Homo sapiens: one gene and its partners. The protein of the gene in region 1 purifies or fractionates together with the protein of each later gene. This does not show direct contact. Each region holds a gene or a part of one and is shown in the gene's direction. Other genes may lie near its edges.

What was found. The genes of interacting proteins can lie anywhere in the genome.
Region 2: the proteins of PROSER2 (region 1) and RDH13 purify together in Homo sapiens (affinity purification with mass spectrometry; 2 studies listed by BioGRID and IntAct, with this or other methods). This does not show direct contact.
Region 3: the proteins of PROSER2 (region 1) and INPP5K purify together in Homo sapiens (affinity purification with mass spectrometry; 2 studies listed by BioGRID and IntAct, with this or other methods). This does not show direct contact.
Region 4: the proteins of PROSER2 (region 1) and MTHFD2L purify together in Homo sapiens (affinity purification with mass spectrometry; 2 studies listed by BioGRID and IntAct, with this or other methods). This does not show direct contact.

The regions. Positions count from the first base shown.
Region 1 is NC_000010.11:11,850,856-11,854,355, forward strand, and holds part of PROSER2 (proline and serine-rich protein 2), read left to right. Parts: exon of another isoform or gene 1-901; intron 902-1,141; 5' UTR 1,142-1,222; coding exon 1,223-1,360; intron 1,361-3,500.
Region 2 is NC_000019.10:55,055,632-55,060,316, reverse strand, and holds part of RDH13 (retinol dehydrogenase 13 isoform 1 precursor), read left to right. Parts: intron 1-1,041; coding exon 1,042-1,160; intron 1,161-3,508; coding exon 3,509-3,664; intron 3,665-4,685. UniProt on the Homo sapiens protein: Retinol dehydrogenase with a clear preference for NADP. Oxidizes all-trans-retinol, but seems to reduce all-trans-retinal with much higher efficiency. Has no activity toward steroids.
Region 3 is NC_000017.11:1,505,596-1,510,280, reverse strand, and holds part of INPP5K (inositol polyphosphate 5-phosphatase K), read left to right. Parts: intron 1-481; coding exon 482-598; intron 599-927; coding exon 928-1,103; intron 1,104-2,054; coding exon 2,055-2,166; intron 2,167-3,191; coding exon 3,192-3,301; intron 3,302-4,685. UniProt on the Homo sapiens protein: Inositol 5-phosphatase which acts on inositol 1,4,5-trisphosphate, inositol 1,3,4,5-tetrakisphosphate, phosphatidylinositol 4,5-bisphosphate and phosphatidylinositol 3,4,5-trisphosphate.
Region 4 is NC_000004.12:74,297,450-74,302,134, forward strand, and holds part of MTHFD2L (bifunctional methylenetetrahydrofolate dehydrogenase/cyclohydrolase 2, mitochondrial), read left to right. Parts: intron 1-4,247; coding exon 4,248-4,360; 3' UTR 4,361-4,685. UniProt on the Homo sapiens protein: Bifunctional mitochondrial folate-interconverting enzyme that has both NAD/NADP-dependent methylenetetrahydrofolate dehydrogenase and methenyltetrahydrofolate cyclohydrolase activities.

The DNA.
Region 1 (3,500 bases):
TTGGTCTTCTAGAAGGCTTTGTTGAACTGTCTAACATGCCGTTCAGGGGCTGGGCTGGATTTCCTGCTAAAAGGGTCAGAGGACCAGACATGGTGGCTCACTCCTGTAATCCCAGCACTGTGGGAGGCCAAGGCAGGCGGATCACTTGAGCTCAGGAGTGACTCCTGAGACCAGCCTGGGCAACATGACGAAACTCTGTCTCTACAAAAAATAAGCTGGGTGTGGTAGTGCAAGCCTGTAGTCCCAGCTACCCAGGAGGCTGAGGTGGGAGGACTGCTTGAGCCCATGAGGTCAAGGCTGCAGGGTATTGTGATTTTGCCACTGCACTCCAGCCTGGATGACAGAGTGAGACCTTATTTCAAAAAAAAGTAGCCAGGGTTGGGGGGGCAGTCAGAGGACTGTATGAAATTAAGGGGCTTACAGGGGACAGTTTCAGTGTCTTTGCTCCTGGAAGTAAAGATGGCAACTTCCTCATAGTTTTAACCTGGGGTACTTTACTTTTGATGTACACATTGCAATAGCATGAGGCTTCCATAGAGTCTTCAGTTTCGGAGATGTCAGCCAGGCTCCCCATGGTAACATGTTAGCTCTTGTCACCTCCCCTCAAGTCTGAACTGTAACAGAGCTGGAGAAGCAACCACAGTTTATGGTGGCTGAGGCAGAAAAGCCAGGAAGAGCCTGAGTGTGAAAGAGCTTGGAAGTGCAGAAGAAGATACCACATTATTCTGTCATATTTCCAGCAGCAAAGTCATCTTGAATATACCCGTCTTTCCTTCAGATTATTCCGGCTGGGCATGGTGACTTGTGCCTATAATCCCAGGTACTCAGGAGGCCGGGGCAGGAGGATCGTTGGAGCCCAAGAGTTCAGTGTCAGCCTGGACAACATAGCAAGACTCTATCTCTGAAAAAAAAACAACAACAAACTTTTAAAAATTATTCTTATGTGTTCAGAATGGTTAACAATATAAAGGAGACATGGCAGTCAGCATCCTCAAACTGGTTGACTTAGCGTTTCCCAATCGCCTTTACCCTAATGGTCGAGTCTGAGAGTGGAGATTAATCTAAGCCATGTTTTTGAGGGATTGAGGCGTTTTACAGTCTCGGCTTACTGACCATTGTCATTCGTGTTTGGTGTCTCTAGGAGTGAGCTGTTGCCGCAGAATGGGCTGCTGGCTCCTGCCCTGCTTCCTGTGATCGAGCCGGCCCTGAGGACTCTGTGGAGATGCCTGTAACCCACCGGAAATCAGACGCATCTGACATGAACTCAGACACGTCCCCCAGCTGCAGGCTCCGAGCCTTCAGCAGAGGCGGCAGCCTGGAGAGTCGAAGCAGCAGCTCTCGCTCCAGAAGCTTCACTTTGGTGAGTGACAGTTTTTCTTTCATGCTTTCCTGTGCCTGGGTCAGTGGATTTTGCCTCAATCCCTCTCCCTTGAAGGAATATTTTACCAGATCTTTTTGGGTCAACTAGCTTGATGTTCTGGAATACTTCTTTGTGAAGTGGTTCTTTATTTTTAATCATCTTAAATTTTGCACAAATACAGAGCATTACCCATAGCCATGGAGCAAATCCCTCGCTGTGGCCAGTAACTCATGGCTGCTTAGACGTAGATAGGACCAGGCCCGGGGCAGAAACCAACCCAGGCAGGAGCGCTGCTGAAGAGCTCACACGATAAACACAGTTGACTCTTTTTTTTGAGACAGAGTCTCACTCTGTCCTCCAGTGGCGCGATCTTGGCTCACTGCAACCTCCGCCTCCCAACTTCAAGCAGTTCTCCTGCCTCAGCCTCCCAAGTACTGGGATTACAGGCTCGTGCCACCACACCCGGCTATTTTTTTTTTTTTTTTTTTTTTTTGGTATTTTTAGTAGAGACAGGGTTTCACCATGTTGGCCAGGCTGATCTCGAACTCCGCCCACCTCAGCTTCCCAAAGTGCTGGGATTATAGGCGTGAGCCACCGCGCCAGGCCTCCCAAAGTGCTGGGATTATAGGCGTGAGCCACCGCGCCCGGCCACTCAAGCTGATGTTTCACTCCTGTGCAAGTAAAGATGCTTTTGTATCCTTCTCAGAATCCAGACCTTTGCATAGCTTTGGGAACTTTACAAAAAGAGTTGGTGAAGTTAAGAGGATCTCGTGCCTTCCCCGGTGAGGACATTCATCTTTCAAGAGAGGGGAGACCATGACACTCACTCCTAGAGGGAGGAGCACAGGAGAGAAATGGTCCCCCGGGCCTCACTAGGAACCATTGGGGGCACCTCTCAGGTCCTCTCCTTCCAGTGGGAACGCCAGTTTCCCTCAGATACACTGAGCCATAAAATTAGCCTCAGTTACGCTGAAGCTAGATATACTTGGTATGGGGTAGTTATTAGTAATGACAGAATTTTCTAGACCCCCACTTGCATATTTTCTTTTTTAAAACCATTATGGTAATATGTGATAAATATTATTTGATTGGCCGGGCACAGTGGCTCACGCCTGTAATCCCGGCACTTTGGGAGGCCAAGGCAGGTGGATAACCTGAGGTCAGGAGTTTGAGAACAGCCTGGCCAACATGGTGAAACCCCGTCTCTACTAAAAATACAAAAATTAGCCGGGCGTGGTGGTGGGCACCTGTAATCCCAGCTACTCGGGAGGCTGAGGCAGGAGAATCACTTGAACCAGGAGGCAGAGGTTGTAGTGAGCTGAAATCGCGCCACTGCACTCCAGGCTGGGCGACAGAACGAGACTCCATCTCAAAAGAAATGCCCAGCACCCAAGCAGCTCTGGTGCCAGCTTCTCCTTCCCTGGTGTTCTGTTAGTGTCCAGGTGGGGCGCCATTCCCCTTCATCCTGCCGCCACCATCTTGTTTGGATCCATGCTCCTCCTTCCATCTCCTTCGTTTCTCCGTAGACGTTTAAATTATTTTTTCTTTGATCGCTAAAGGTGAGGTGGTAAAAGGGAACATTCCTTCCTCCTCCCTACTGCACACATTTCTTAATTCTACCAGTTTTATGGGCATGAGTTTGATTTTAAATTAAAGGATTCCTGTTCTACCCAGTTCTTTCCTATCCGGTAAATCATCCAGTAGCACTCCCGTGGTATATGTGATGTCTCTCTGTCTGTTCCCTGCCGTGCCTGTCCCTGTATATCATAGGGTAGAATAATGGAAACAGCATTGTAAAGCCCACTCATAGGACGCCTATAATTAAGTTACGTCTACATGGTGTGTGTTTGGGATCACAGAATTCTGCTGCATATCCAGCCTTAGACCTGTTCTCCTCCTGATGTTGGAGGAATGTTCTGGTCGTGTTTCCTTGCCTTCCCCTCAGGCCTGTTAACTGTTTTCAGGCATTTTCCTCCAGGGACATTGAGCTAAGTTTACTTGTCATCTTATTATTTCACAGTTGTGTACTTTCCTTTAGAACTAGCAAAATGAGAAAATATGGCATTTAACTTTAAATGACAACTAAAGTGGTTTTCTGTTGTTTTTGTTTAAGACAAGGTCTTGCTCTGTCACCCAGGCT
Region 2 (4,685 bases), on another chromosome or scaffold:
GCAGCATTGCTGTAAACATGTCTCGCCTCCCGCCATAGGGCGGCTTTTCTCCTGTCTCAGAATTGAACAAATGTACAATCAGGTTTTATACCGAGACATTCAGTTCCCAGGGTCAGGCAGGAGACAGTGGCCTTCCTCTCTCTCAACTGCAAGAGGCTTTCCTCTTTTACCAATCCACCTCAGCACAGACCCTTTACGGGTGTTGGGCTGGGGGACGGTCAGGTCTTTCTCATCCCACGAGGCCATATTTCAGACTATCCCACGGGGAGAAACCTTGGACAATACTCTGTGTTCAAGGGCAGAGGTCCCTGCAGCTTTCTGCAGTGCATCGTGCCCCTGGTTTATTGAGACTAGAGACTGGCGATGACTTTTACCAAGTATACTGCTTGGAAACATTGTGTTAACAAGGCACTTCCTGCACAGCCCTAGATCCCTTAAACCTTGATTTCATACAACACAGGTTTTTGTGAGCTCCAGATTGGGTCAAAGTGGCTGGGTCAAAGCTACAAATTAACAACATCTCAGCAAAGCAATTGTTCAAAGTACAGGTCTTTTTCAAAATGGAGTCTCTTATGTCTTTCCTTTCTATATAGACACAGTAACAGTCTAATCTCTCTTTTCCCTACACATCTGGCTAATTTTTGTATTTTAAGTAGAGACGGGGTCTCGCCATGTTTGCCAGGCTGGACTCGAACTCCTGACCTCAAGTGATCCGCCCCCGCCCCCCCCCACCCCCAAAACTTTGGCCTCCCAAAGTGCTGGGATTACAGGTGCAAGCCCCCTCACCTGGCCGGGAATCTCATGCAGTGAGCATTTATAAAATAATGACTGTCACTTGCTGAAGGCGTTCCACACGCCAGACACTGGGTGGAGCCACTTATGGAGAACATGACAGAGGTCCCTTGGTGTGATGTGATGATGTCTGTGTTTCAGTTGGGGTATGTGAGTGAGCTCAGACAAGGTTGCCTGAGATCATTCAGTCAGGGGCACGTGGGGTGAGAGTGGGCCCACAGGACTGACCGTGCCGCTTCTCACCCTCAGGGACTATGTCACCGGTGGGGCTTGCCCCAGCAAGGCCACCATCCCTGGGAAGACGGTCATCGTGACGGGTGCCAACACAGGCATCGGGAAGCAGACCGCCTTGGAACTGGCCAGGAGAGGTAAAATCTCCCCTGCTTTGGCTCTCAGAGAGATATCTGTACATCCATGCTCACTGCAGCATTATTCACAGTCCGGAGGTGGAAGGAACCCAGGCACCCATCCACAGATGAACAGGGAAACAGAATGTGGCTTCTATAGACAGGGGCATATGATTCAGCCTTAAAAAGGAAGGGCATTCTGGCCGGGCGCGGTGGTGCACGCCTGTAATCAGTACTTTGGGAGGCCAAAGCTGGCGGATCACGAGGTCAGGAGTTCGAGACCAGCCTAACCAACATGGTGAAACCCCCTCTCTACTAAAAATACAAAAATTAGCCAGGAGTTGTGGTGGGCACCTGTAGTCCCAGCTGCTTGGGAGGCTGAAGCAGGAGAATCGCTTGAACCTGAGAGGCAGGGGTTGCAGTGAGCAGAGATGGCGCCACGGCACTCCAGCCTGGGTGACAGAGTGAGACTCAAAAACAAAACAAAACAAAGCAAAACAAAAAAAAGGGCATTGAAACAGATGAACCTTGAGGACATTCCATGAAGTGAAATAAGCCAGTCGACAGAAGAGCAAATACGGTATGATTCCACTTACAGGAGCTACCTACAGTTAAATTCATAGAGAAGTTGGAATGGTGCTTGCCAGGGGTCAGGAGGGGAGGGGAGAATGGGGAGTTACTGTTTAATGGAAACGGAAGTTTAGTTTGGCAAGATGAAACAATTTGAGAGATGGATGGTTGTAATGGTTGCACAACATTAGGAATTATTATTATTGTTTTTTTTTTTTTGAGATGGAGTTTTGCTCTTGTCGCCCAGGCTGGAGTGCAGTGGCATGATCTTGGCTCACTGCAACCTTCGCCTCCCGGGTTCAAGCAATTCTCCTGCCTCAGCCACCCGAGTAGCTGGGATTACAGGCATGCAACACCACACCCAGCTAAGTTTGTAATGTGTTGGCCAGGCTGGTCTTGAACTCCTGACCTCAGGTGATCCACCTGCCTTGGTCTCCCAAAGTGCTGGGATTACAGGTGTGAGCCACCATGCCCGGCCCAGCCATAAATGTTTTTAATACCAATGAACTGGACACTTAAAAATGGCTAAGAGGGCGGGTCTCGGTGGCTCACATCTATAATTCCAGCACTTTTGGAGGCTGAGGCAGGAGGATCACTTGAGGCCAGGGGTTCCAGACCAGCCTGGACACCATAGCAACACCCCCATCTCTACCAGAGTTAGCCAGGCATGCTGGCACAGGTGGTACCTATAGTCCCAGGTCACTTGAGCCTAGGAGTTCAAGGCTGAATGAGCTGTGATGGCGCCAGCACTCCAGCCGCGGCAGCAGAGTGAGACTGACTCAAAAAAAAAAAAATAATAATAAACAAAAAGAAAAGGGGGTTAAGATGATAAATTTTAAGTGATTTGTATTTTACCACAACAAAAAAAATTGGAGGCTGGGCATTGTGGCTTATTTGTAATCCCAGTACTTTGGGAGGCCGCGGGGTGGATCACCTGAGGTCAGAAGTTCAAGACTAGCTTGGCTAACATGGTGAAACCGCTGTCTCTACTAAAAATAAAAAAATAAAAAATTAGCTAGTTGTGGTAGGTGCCTGTAATCCCAGCTACTCGGGAGGCTGAGGCAGGAGAATTGCTTGAACCCAGGAGGTGGAGGTTGCAGTGAGCCGAGATTGCGCCACCGCACTCCAGCCTGGGTGACAGAGTGAGACTCCATCTAAAAAAAAAAAAAAAAGGAGAGGATGGGGAATCCTCTTGCCTTGGCCTCCCAAAGTGCTGGAATTACAGGTGTGAGCCACCGTGCCCGACCAATTCAGTGATGTTTAGTATAGTCACAGAATGATGCAACCATCTTTAAAATCAATCTTAGAACATCTGTTACCCTAGAAAGAAACCTGCTCACTGTAACTATCAAGCTGTAATTCCCTCTCCCCACCCCCTGCCCTAGAAAACCAAGAATCTATTTTCTTTCTCTATGGATTTGCCTATTCTGGGCGTTTCATAGGTGTGAAATCATATACATAGAATTCATGTAAATGGGATTGTACGCTGTGTGGTCTTTCGTGTCTGGTTTCTTTCCCCGAGCACAGTGTTTCTGACGGTCATCCTTGCTGTAGCATGAGCCAGTGCTTCACTCCTTTTCACGGCCGTCTAATATTCCATCTCTATGGATGGACCACATTTTGTTGTCCCTTCATCCACAGATGGGCATTTGGTTGTTTCTACCTTTTGGCTTTTGTGAAGAATGCCGCAGTGAACATTGGTGGATGTGTTTTTGTGTAGACGTATGTTTTCATGTCTCTGGGGTCAGTACCCAGGAGTGGATTATTAATTTAAATCTTTTTCCATCCTGGGTTTTCAGGAGGCAACATCATCCTGGCCTGCCGAGACATGGAGAAGTGTGAGGCGGCAGCAAAGGACATCCGCGGGGAGACCCTCAATCACCATGTCAACGCCCGGCACCTGGACTTGGCTTCCCTCAAGTCTATCCGAGAGTTTGCAGCAAAGATCATTGAAGGTAGGAGAACGCTGGCCATGTGGGATGAGGACTGGGATAGGCGGCTCCCAGGGCCAGGCTCTGAGAAGTGAATGAAGCAAGCAAACTTTAGAGCAGAGTTTTGGCAAACTATGAGTTAGGGGCCAAGTCCAGTTGCTGCCTTTTTTTGTACAGCCTGCAAGCAACGACTTTATTTATTTATTACTACTGTTATTTTGAGAGGGAGTCTCACTCTGTCGGCCAGGCTGAGTGCAATGGCGCGATCTCGGCTCACTGTAACCTCTGCCTCCTGGGTTCAAGCGCGGACCTCAGCCTCCTGAGTAGCTGGGATTAAGATGCCTGCTACCATACCCTGCTAATTTTTGTATTTTTAGTAGAGACGGGGTTTCACCACGTTGGCCAGGCTGGTCTGGAACTCCTGACCTCAGGTGATTCTCCTGCCTCAGCCTCCCAGAGTGCTGGGATTACAGGCGTGGGCCACTGCGCCCGGCTGACTTTGTTTTGTTTGTTTGTTTTGAGACAGATGGGGTCTCGCTCTGTTGCCCAGGCTGGAGTGCAGTGGTGTGATCTTGCCTCACTGCAACCTCCGTCTCCCGATTTCAAATGATTCTCCTGCTTCAGCCTCCTGAGTAGCTGGGATTACAGGCACCCGCCACCGTGCCTGGCTAATTTTTTGTGTTTTAGGTAGAGACAGGGTTTCACCATGTTGGTCAGGCTGGTCTCGAACTCCTGACCTCAGGTGATCTGCTTCCCTTGGCCTCCCAAAGTGCTGGGATTACAGGTGTGAGCCACCGTGCCCTACCTGAATAATTAGTTTGTTTGAGACAGGATCCATCTCTGTCACCCAGGCTAGAGTGCAGTGGTGCAGTCATGGCTCACTGCAGTCTCAACCTGCTGGGCTCAAGGGATCCTCCCACTTCAGCCTCCCAAGTAGCTGGGAGTACAGGCATACGCCACCACACACAGCTAATTATTGTTTTATTGTTTTGTTTTGTTTTTAGAGCTGGGGTTTCACCATGTTGCTCAGGCTGGTCTCCAACTC
Region 3 (4,685 bases), on another chromosome or scaffold:
CACGCCATTGCACTCCAGCCTGGGCGACAGAGCGAGACTCCGTCTCAAAAAAAAAAGAATGCTGAAACCAAAAAATAATAGCTTTCAGATAATCCCCACAGCATCTATGAGATGGATTCCTACTTTATCAATGAGAAAATACACTGAGAAACTGCCTCAATGTCAAATACTAAGAATCAGAGCCAGGGTTTGAACCCAGATCTAACTTCAAAGCCAGTATCCTTAGCTTATCTTCTCTTCCCGCCACCCGCACGCCTAGGCGCAGAATCGAAAACCTCAGCCCCCAGAATGTATCATTTGGCAGCTGAGAAGAAGAATGGAAAGGCTTGAAACTCTGAGATTCAAACTGGGATATCGTAGACCCTGGAGCAGGACACTGCATGTAGCTGAGGGCTCTCTAGAGTCCCTAGCACGGAGCTTGGAAGGGATGCACTTGGCCTGTGTGGTTTAATGAGCGACCTTTGCCCTCTCTCTCCTGCAGGTCTCCCATGTCCGTATGCAGGGGATCCTCTTACTGGTCTTTGCCAAGTATCAGCATTTGCCCTATATCCAGATTCTGTCTACTAAATCCACCCCCACTGGCCTGTTTGGGTACTGGGTAAGGACTGAGCTATTGTCTGAGTCGTGAGCTGGGAAGGGCTGGGAACTGTGGAGCTGGGCAAAAGAAAAAGGAAGTGAAAGGAATCTTGGTCCTCTGTCCAGCCCAATGCATGTTTGTTCTTTTGCCTCAGAGTGGGCTTGCTATCCCTGAGGCCAGGCGAGGCGAGCTGGGCTCTGTGCATGGAGAGATCACCCTGGGAAGCTTAGTTACTGTCCCTAGGAGACCCTGCAGGAAGTGAGACTGTCTGCCCTCAGGTCCAGGATGTGGAAAGAGGGGTGTGTCCAACCCGAGTAGCTTCCCACTCTTCTGTTGACCTGTTCTACCAGGGGAACAAAGGTGGAGTCAACATCTGCCTGAAGCTTTATGGCTACTATGTCAGCATCATCAACTGCCACCTGCCTCCCCACATTTCCAACAATTACCAGCGGCTGGAGCACTTTGACCGGATCCTGGAGATGCAGAATTGTGAGGGGCGAGACATCCCAAACATCCTGGACCACGAGTGAGCCTGGGTCTGGCAGACCGTTCCCCGCCCTCTGCCCCACGCTAACCCCCACTAACCCCCACGAGTGAGCCTGGGTCTGCAGACCGCTCCCCGCCCTCTGCCCCACGCTGACCCCCACGAGTGAGCCTGGGTCTGCAGACTGTTCCCCGCCCTCTGCCCCACGCTGACCGCCACGAGTGAGCCTGGGTCTGCAGACTGTTCCCCGCCCTCTGCCCCACGCTGACCCCCACGAGTGAGCCTGGGTCTGCAGACCGTTCCCCGCCCTCTGCCCCACGCTGACCGCCACGAGTGAGCCTGGGTCTGCAGACCGTTCCCCGCCCTCTGCCCCACGCTGACCCCCACGAGTGAGCCTGGGTCTGCAGACTGTTCCCCGCCCTCTGCCCCAGCTGACCGCCACGAGTGAGCCTGGGTCTGCAGACTGTTCCCCGCCCTCTGCCCCACGCTAACCCAAGCCAGCATCCTCTGCTCCATCACGGATCCCCCAGCCAGTGTCGTCAGTGTTCTGGCTCCCACCCTCTCCCTGACCCTTCCCTGGTGCCCATCTGCTGTCTCCCCTTGCTTTGCCTGCCTGGGGTCCCCTTCCTCCAGCCCGTCTGTCTTGCTTAGAAACCCTGAACACTTGGGAACAGGTCAAGGACCTTGTGGCTCCTGAGGTCACCAGGAGGGCTTCTCAGCCTTTCCTCGTGACCAGTTAAGGAGAGGAAGGAAGGGCCACAGCCTGCTCTGTGTTTGCCAGAGCAGGCTCTTTGGTAGGTCTCTCCGGTTTGAATGGTGGTTTAGGAGCCATGAGAACAGTTCCAGAGGACCCACGCGTGCCCTGGCGTCTCACTTGCCCCTCAGGTTTTCTGTGCCCCAGCAGCCCTTGGGTTGAGCAGGCTGAGCCACCTGGTGATCTCCCTTCCCCGACTTCATCACAAATCCTCAGGCTGCCCTCCTTTTTTTCTGAAGCCTCATTATCTGGTTTGGAGACATGAACTTTCGGATCGAGGACTTTGGGTTGCACTTTGTTCGGGAATCCATTAAAAATCGGTGCTACGGTGGCCTGTGGGAGAAGGACCAGGTATCCAGTGAGGGGAGGGTCCCAGGGGGTGATCTGAGCCCACGGTGGGGGCCATGTGAGCTGTGCAGAGTGTTGCTAGATGCCCTCGCTGCTGTTTTCTTTTGCCCAGGTCTGGTGGGGGAGGCTGTCTAGCAGGGCTTCGCATCCAGGGGTGAGGCAGCCACGCCTGATCTTCACATGGAAAAGCCAGGGTAACAGACCCTGGATGTGCTTTAGAATAGAGAGTCAGATACAAAGCATGAAATGAATTATTTAAAAAAGAAGAATAGGGGCCGGGCACGGTGGCTTATGCCTGTAATTCCAGCACTCTGGGAGGCCGAGGTGGGTGGATCACCTGAGGTCGGGGGTTTGAGACCAGCCTGACCAACTTGGAGAAACCTCATCTCTACTAAAAATACAAAAAAAAATTCGCCGGGCGTGGTGGCACGTGCCTGTAATCCCAGCTACTCGGGAGGCTGAGGTAGGGGAATCGCTTGAACCCGGGAGGCAGAGGTTGCAGTGAGCAGAGATAGCGCCATTGCACTCCAGCCTGGGCAACAAAAGCAAAACTCCATCTCAAAAAAAAAAAAAGAAGAAGAATAGGGAACCAGAAGGGCTTTGCACCAGGTACCATCATGCGTCAGCCCATCGTGTCCCTGTCGTCTTTCCCATCCCCAGCCTCGTTTCCCTCTTGGAGGGTGAGGTGCCCCTTTGGAGAACCCTGGCTTCCCCAGGTTCCCCTCTGACACATGTCTGCTAGTGATCTCCCCTAGAGATGGAATTCCAAGTTGGGTCCCTGCAGTCTAAGGACTGGGAAACGGCAGACAGCTGCCTCCCCTGGGCCTTGGTAATGTTTCCGAAAGGATTCGCCTGCTTTCTGGTGGGAGTGGGCTGCTGAGTAGTCACTGGGGCAGTGAGGAATTGGAGTGGCATTGCTTGACTCTTGCCCCATTTGTGACGGCATGTGCTGATCCCTTGAATGGAGTGTGGTACTGGGCCACTGGGTCGAGACTACTGGGAGACGGGGACTATGACTTTGTCTGCAGCTCAGCATTGCCAAGAAACATGACCCGCTGCTCCGGGAGTTCCAGGAGGGCCGCCTACTCTTCCCGCCCACCTACAAGTTTGATAGGAACTCCAACGACTATGACACCAGGTGAGGAGGGAGTGGGGGGCCAGAAGGTCTAGGAAGTCAGGTTACACTGACCCTGCTGGCATGGGAACTGTCTCAGAATAGAAGTGTTAGGGGGGGCAGGAATTGGTCTAGTCATCCCCTCTCCAGAGTGGCACCTCCTGTCCACTTCATGAGGCGCTGACTCGGGGAGCCGTCCCAGATCTCGAGAGAGTGGGAGGAAAGCCAGTGCCAGCAAGGGCAGGAGAGGTGTGTAGGGGGTGGGGGTGTTACAGATAGAACCAGAGGAGAGGGTGGAGCAGCTGCCTCCTGACCTAGGAGGGACTGCACTTCAGCTTCGGGAAACCCCAGACCTTCTGGTCCCCAAACGGGGCAGAAAGCTTGGCCCAGCCAGTTACTGGTATTAAGGACGCCTGCCCCAGCCTGTGAATGGGTCAGGTCTTGTGTGAGAAGGTGAAGTAGTAGGTAGAGAGTTTCATCAGGATCAGTGTAGAGATCATGAGTCTGGTAGTTAGAAGCACGGCTCTGTCTTATTTTAGCCAAAGCGTTTAGGCCTTGATTTTGTCAGCTATAAGGTGTGGATGAGAAGAGCACACACCTCATGAGGCTGAGGACTGAAGGAGGCCGTCACCCAGTAACCATGGGAGAGAACGGCTATTGTGACTTTTCGATTCATGCCGGCTGGGCGCGGTGGCTCACACCTGTAATCCCAGCACTTTGGGAGGGCCGAGGCAGGTGGATCACTGAAGGTCAGGAGTTTGAGACCAGCCTGACCAACATGGTAAAACCCCATCTCTACTAAAAATTCAAAAATTAGCTGGGCATGGTAGCGCGCACCTGTAATCCCAGCTACTCAGGAAGCTGAGGCAGGAGAATTGCTTGAACCCAAGAGGCAGAGGTTGCCGTGAGCCGAGATCTCACCGCTGCACTCCAGCCTGGGTGACAGAGCGAGACTCCGTCTCAAAAAAATAATAATAAAATAAATAGATTCATGTCTTCCCGTGATAGATTTACTAAAAACCTTTCTAAGAAGCTGAGAAGGGGCCAAATAACCACCAAAACCTGAGAAAGAACCACTGGCAACATGTCCCTGACTCATTTTGGGGCAAGGAACCTAATCTCTTTGAAGAAAAGAAGAGCCCCTTACATGTCATGAGGGTCTTTGTTCCAGCGGGAGCAGCTTGTTCATTCCTCCTAGCTGGAGTGTCTCTGTGAGGGAGGCGGGAGGTACCGGCAGGGCAGCCCAGGGCTTTGGGATTTAGCCAGGGAAGAAATATCTCCACAGCCAGACCAAGACAAGAGGTAGAACTCAAGCTTGGTTCTGGAAGTGTTACAGCAAAGCCAAAATATCCTTGTCAAGGAAAGGGGGAAAGAGTGAGCCGATTCAGCAGTGTGGAGCAAGACAGGG
Region 4 (4,685 bases), on another chromosome or scaffold:
CTTCTGGTATTCCCTTAAACAGACACAAATATGCCCTCACACCTACACCCACAGTAAATTAAGTCGCTGAAGGAAATTACTATCATATAATGCTTCTGTATTTCTCTTTAATGGAGCATGTAGAACACCTTTTCCCTACACATAATAGGATTAATATTTAAAAGCATCATCTTCAGCCAAGTGCAAACCTTTGTCTGCCCTCAGGGAAAGACTAGCCAATGAGAGGTTATTCTGGTGATGTAATGCTTGTTACCTTGCTCTCTTTCAGGCATGATTGGGGAAGATGCTTTTCAGAACATCAAACATGAATAGAATTTAACTCTTTCTCACATGACTAATTTTAGCACATAAGCCACCTGCAGTATTTCATAAATGTGTTGCTTAAGATCGCCCTGAAATAGTTATGCAAAATCATTAGAGTAGAGAATTTTTGTTAAGCATTGACATCTGTATCCACTGGCACTTGCCAATAGCTCCCCACCTTTCTTGAGAGATCACTTACTTCTGTATCCTGATCCTTACGTAAATGGGCAAAGAATATATTAACACTAGCCAGCAGCAGATAAGCTTATTATTTCCTTCTCAGACACAGATACTCATGAAAATCAAATCAAAAGGAATAGAAACCTAATATGTGTTTTCCAAAGTCAAATTAATCACTCTGTCTCTCATGACCATATACAGGGTTTATCTTCATATCCATATACTTTATTTCAAAAACAAAAAAGATTTAAGCAAGTATTTTAATAACCAGGTGTGTTTACAATGATATTATAATCTTCTGCCTCGTGAATAATTTTCAGATCTCTATTGATGCTACTAAATGTTTATTAATGTTCAGAGAAGCCCTAGCCCAGATCAGGTGAAGACCTATTACCCCTTACATAGCCTGATTCTATGAAAACTGATAGGCAGGACAGGGTGAATATGTGTTGGTTTCCACCAGCGAAGTATGCAAAAATGCAGACACTGAGCTAAAAAATTTCCGGCGGATATTATTTCATGTAGTATCTCATTCCCATTCCCTCCTCCTCCACCCAAACCTCACTTTTTGAGCAAAAGAATGCAATAGTAAGCATGTTGTCTGAAAAACATAATTTGGAAGAGGAAGATAATGATACCTGAGCATACCAGTGGTTTATCTGATCTGACACCAGGAATAAAGCAACTCAGACTGCTAAGCCAGCTGTGTAATTTGAAGTGTAATATGTAGTTCAGAGATGATGAGCTATGAGAACTTATAGTCAAAATGTTGGAAAATTAATATATTAGAATCTTTTCCTCTTCATTTCTTTTTTCCAGAATATCCTGCTAACACTTTGAGAAAACTGAGTTAATTTTTGGCACTTGAGCCATTCTTTGGACTTTTCTACTCGTTTAGGTCATGATAATACAGTTGCATTGGAATGGGGTGAAATTATGGGATTATAGAGCATTTCAAACCTGGCTGTGAATAATGTCTGTACATATAGGAGAGTGATAAGTCACTGTAACTTCACTGAGCCACAGTTTCCTCATCTATTAAAATGAAATAATTAAATATTAATTATTAAAACAGCATAATTCTTGGCAAGTAATTAATAAGTACTCAATTGATAGTAGCTATGGTTTTTACTATTTTTTTCATAGACAAATAATATCAAAGCTGCTTTACCTTTCAAAGTTAGAAACCAAACTATATAAAAATAATTTTATACCCACAATAGGTTTTCTGATATAACAAATTGTATGCCACTTTTAAATTTTGAAATAAATCATTTTGTTTTCCATTGAAGATTCAATTTGCACTTGATTTTTACTTTCCCATATTATTTAGCAGAATTTTATTTTTATATATTAATATTTCAAAGTTAGTGCTTTACAAATATATGACTTTGTGTTCTATTAGTATAAATGGTAGTAGTAGTGTAAATAGTAGTAGTACTGTAAGTAGTAGTAGCAGCAGCAGCAGCAGCAGTAGCAGTAGCAGTAGCAGTAGCAGTAGCATAAATGTTACTTCTAAAGACCTGCCAAGTTTTAAACGCATTGCTTCTCCAGTGCTTGAGAAAAGGTCCTGGAAGGCATTTCTCAGGCCATTAAGTCAGCTTATTGAAAAGTGGAAAATGCAGTTTATCACCCTAAAGCAAAATGAGTAGCTCAAGTTTTTCAGTAAATTAGCTTAAACTAAATTGATATTGTTTACATCCAGTGAAAAGCACTGACACATTTCTGCAAATTGATTTTAGATTTTAAGTAAGGGCAATTTAAGTTCACTTTCTCAAAATCTGCTTAGTGCCTAACCTGTGTATGGAGATATTCTAAGATTAAAAACAACCACCACAATGACTTGGCTTCTGCCTTCTAGATGCTGATGTCTAGTTAAGGGAACAGACAGTGCACAGTGTCTTAAGTTCCATAATGGAGGTAGGTATAAAATTATTGGAAATATAGATGGTGGGGCTTTCAATTCAACACTGGAGGAATGAGTTTTTCAGAAAAATTGTAGACAGGTGACATTTCATTGGCTTTCAGGAAATAATGAGTTTCTTGTTTGGATAAGATGGAATAATGATCCAGGTAGAAGGAACAGTTAGAGCAAAGGAAGAAAGGACTAAAAATTCATAGCTGTTTATTGAATGGCTATTGACCCATTCTAATGTTTCTATAGAATAGAATGCATTAGATGGAAATGTGGCAATGGAAAGGTTGTGCTTTCTGTATAGAGACGCTGTTTGGAAAACTGAAATATTACCTTCCAAATCATAGTATTCTTATATTTTCTTTATAGCATCCCATCAGAAAATTCATAACACATGTTAACTATATATATTTTGTGATGTATTTAAGCTTACTGGACCTTTCTTCAAGTAAAACAATGTTATTCCTTTGCTTTTCCTCAGATTTAAAAAATTATTCCAATGTACTATTCACTTCAAATAAAGTAAAGGTAAATCCCACAAATCATCCTTCAAAAGGGCGACATAAGTTGTGCAAAAATAATACTAAAGATATAGACAACATCTATTTATTTTGATTCATGCAGAAGTCTATATGAGCTAATTGTAAAAGGCAATACATCTAAATAGCATGTGGTTAATAATGTCAGATTATGCATTAAAGAAATATTGTCTATGCTAACTTTTTACTAAAAGTTATTTGGAAAAACTTCATTGCTCTTATTCACACAGTAAACCACCATACCATCAAGTAAATGAATGCAGTAAGTCATTCACCTTTCATACTGTGGGTGTGAAAACATTCTTAAATAAAACTTGCTGAGAGTTATCTGCCATTTTCTTTAAGTATACAGATTCTCCATGACTTATGATGGGGTTACATCCCGGTAATCCTAAGTTGAAAATATCATTAGGTCAGAAATGCATTTAATACACCAAAGATCATACCTTAGTCTAGGCTACCATAAACATGCTCAGAACACTTACATTAGCCTATATTTGGACAAATAATCTCATAATGCAGTACATTGTAGAGTATTGGTTGATCATGGTTGTTCACCTTTGTGATCTCATGGCTGACTGGGAGCTTTGGCTTATTACCACTACTCAGCATCTTGAGAAGTATCGTATCACATATCACTAGCTGGGAGAAAGGTCACAATTCAAAATTTGAAGTATAGTTCCCACTGAATCTGTATGGCTTTTACACAGTTGAAAAATCAAAAAATTATAAGTGAAACCATTGCAAGCTGGGGACCATCTGTATTCACTGAATAAGTTCCCATACCTCTGAACAGGACTATGTATGTGTTCATAATTCAAGTATATTTAGTGATACTTACTAGACTTGAATTGAAATGTATTATCCACACATACATTGTGATATTGTTATAACAGGAATAATTCTATTTAATAAATGGTATGTGCTCAACTTTCTATATTCTATGTCCCTGTGTCCCTTTTGTGACCAGTATCATGTATTTTAGAATTAGTTAACTAGAATTACAGGTAACTGGGTCAATCATGGGTTTCATTATGTAAAACAAACTGAGCTGCATGGAGCTTGAACCTAGGTGTCGGTCCATTTTGGTCTTTCTGTCCACCTTAGATATCATCCACAGAAGTATTCGTCTAAGTGAGTGTGAGCGTGTGTGTGTGTGTGTGTGTGTGTGTCTGTTTATTACAGCCTACTTGATTCTAAAAATGATTTGTATATATAATGAAGAATCACTATATTCAGCATGTTTAAAAATATTAAAATCTCAGATATTTTAAAATAAAGAATATCTGTTTGTTTTTTTTCCTCATCAGCTGTTAAAAAGAAAGCTGGCTTTATCACTCCAGTTCCAGGAGGTGTGGGACCCATGACAGTGGCAATGCTTCTGAAGAACACCCTTCTGGCAGCTAAAAAAATCATTTACTAGATCACATGAAAGGATAAAGCAAACTGAAGTCATGCTATTTGTTTATTTGACAAAGGGTAAAACCTTTATATTTTACTACAAAGCTATTTATTTCTACATGGTATTTATTTTTTCATGGGTGAAATCATTGTGAATCAATTGATTCACATAGTTTTATGCATTTCCTGCTAATTTATTTTGAGTTTTAAGAAAACAACCAAAACAATTCCAATGAAAATTTTAGTAACAATTGTTTATTTTGAGGGTATTTGTTCATAACATTAAAACAATAAAGGGCTCATAATAAATAAATATATTTTTGACACAATTAAATATTACATAGAGT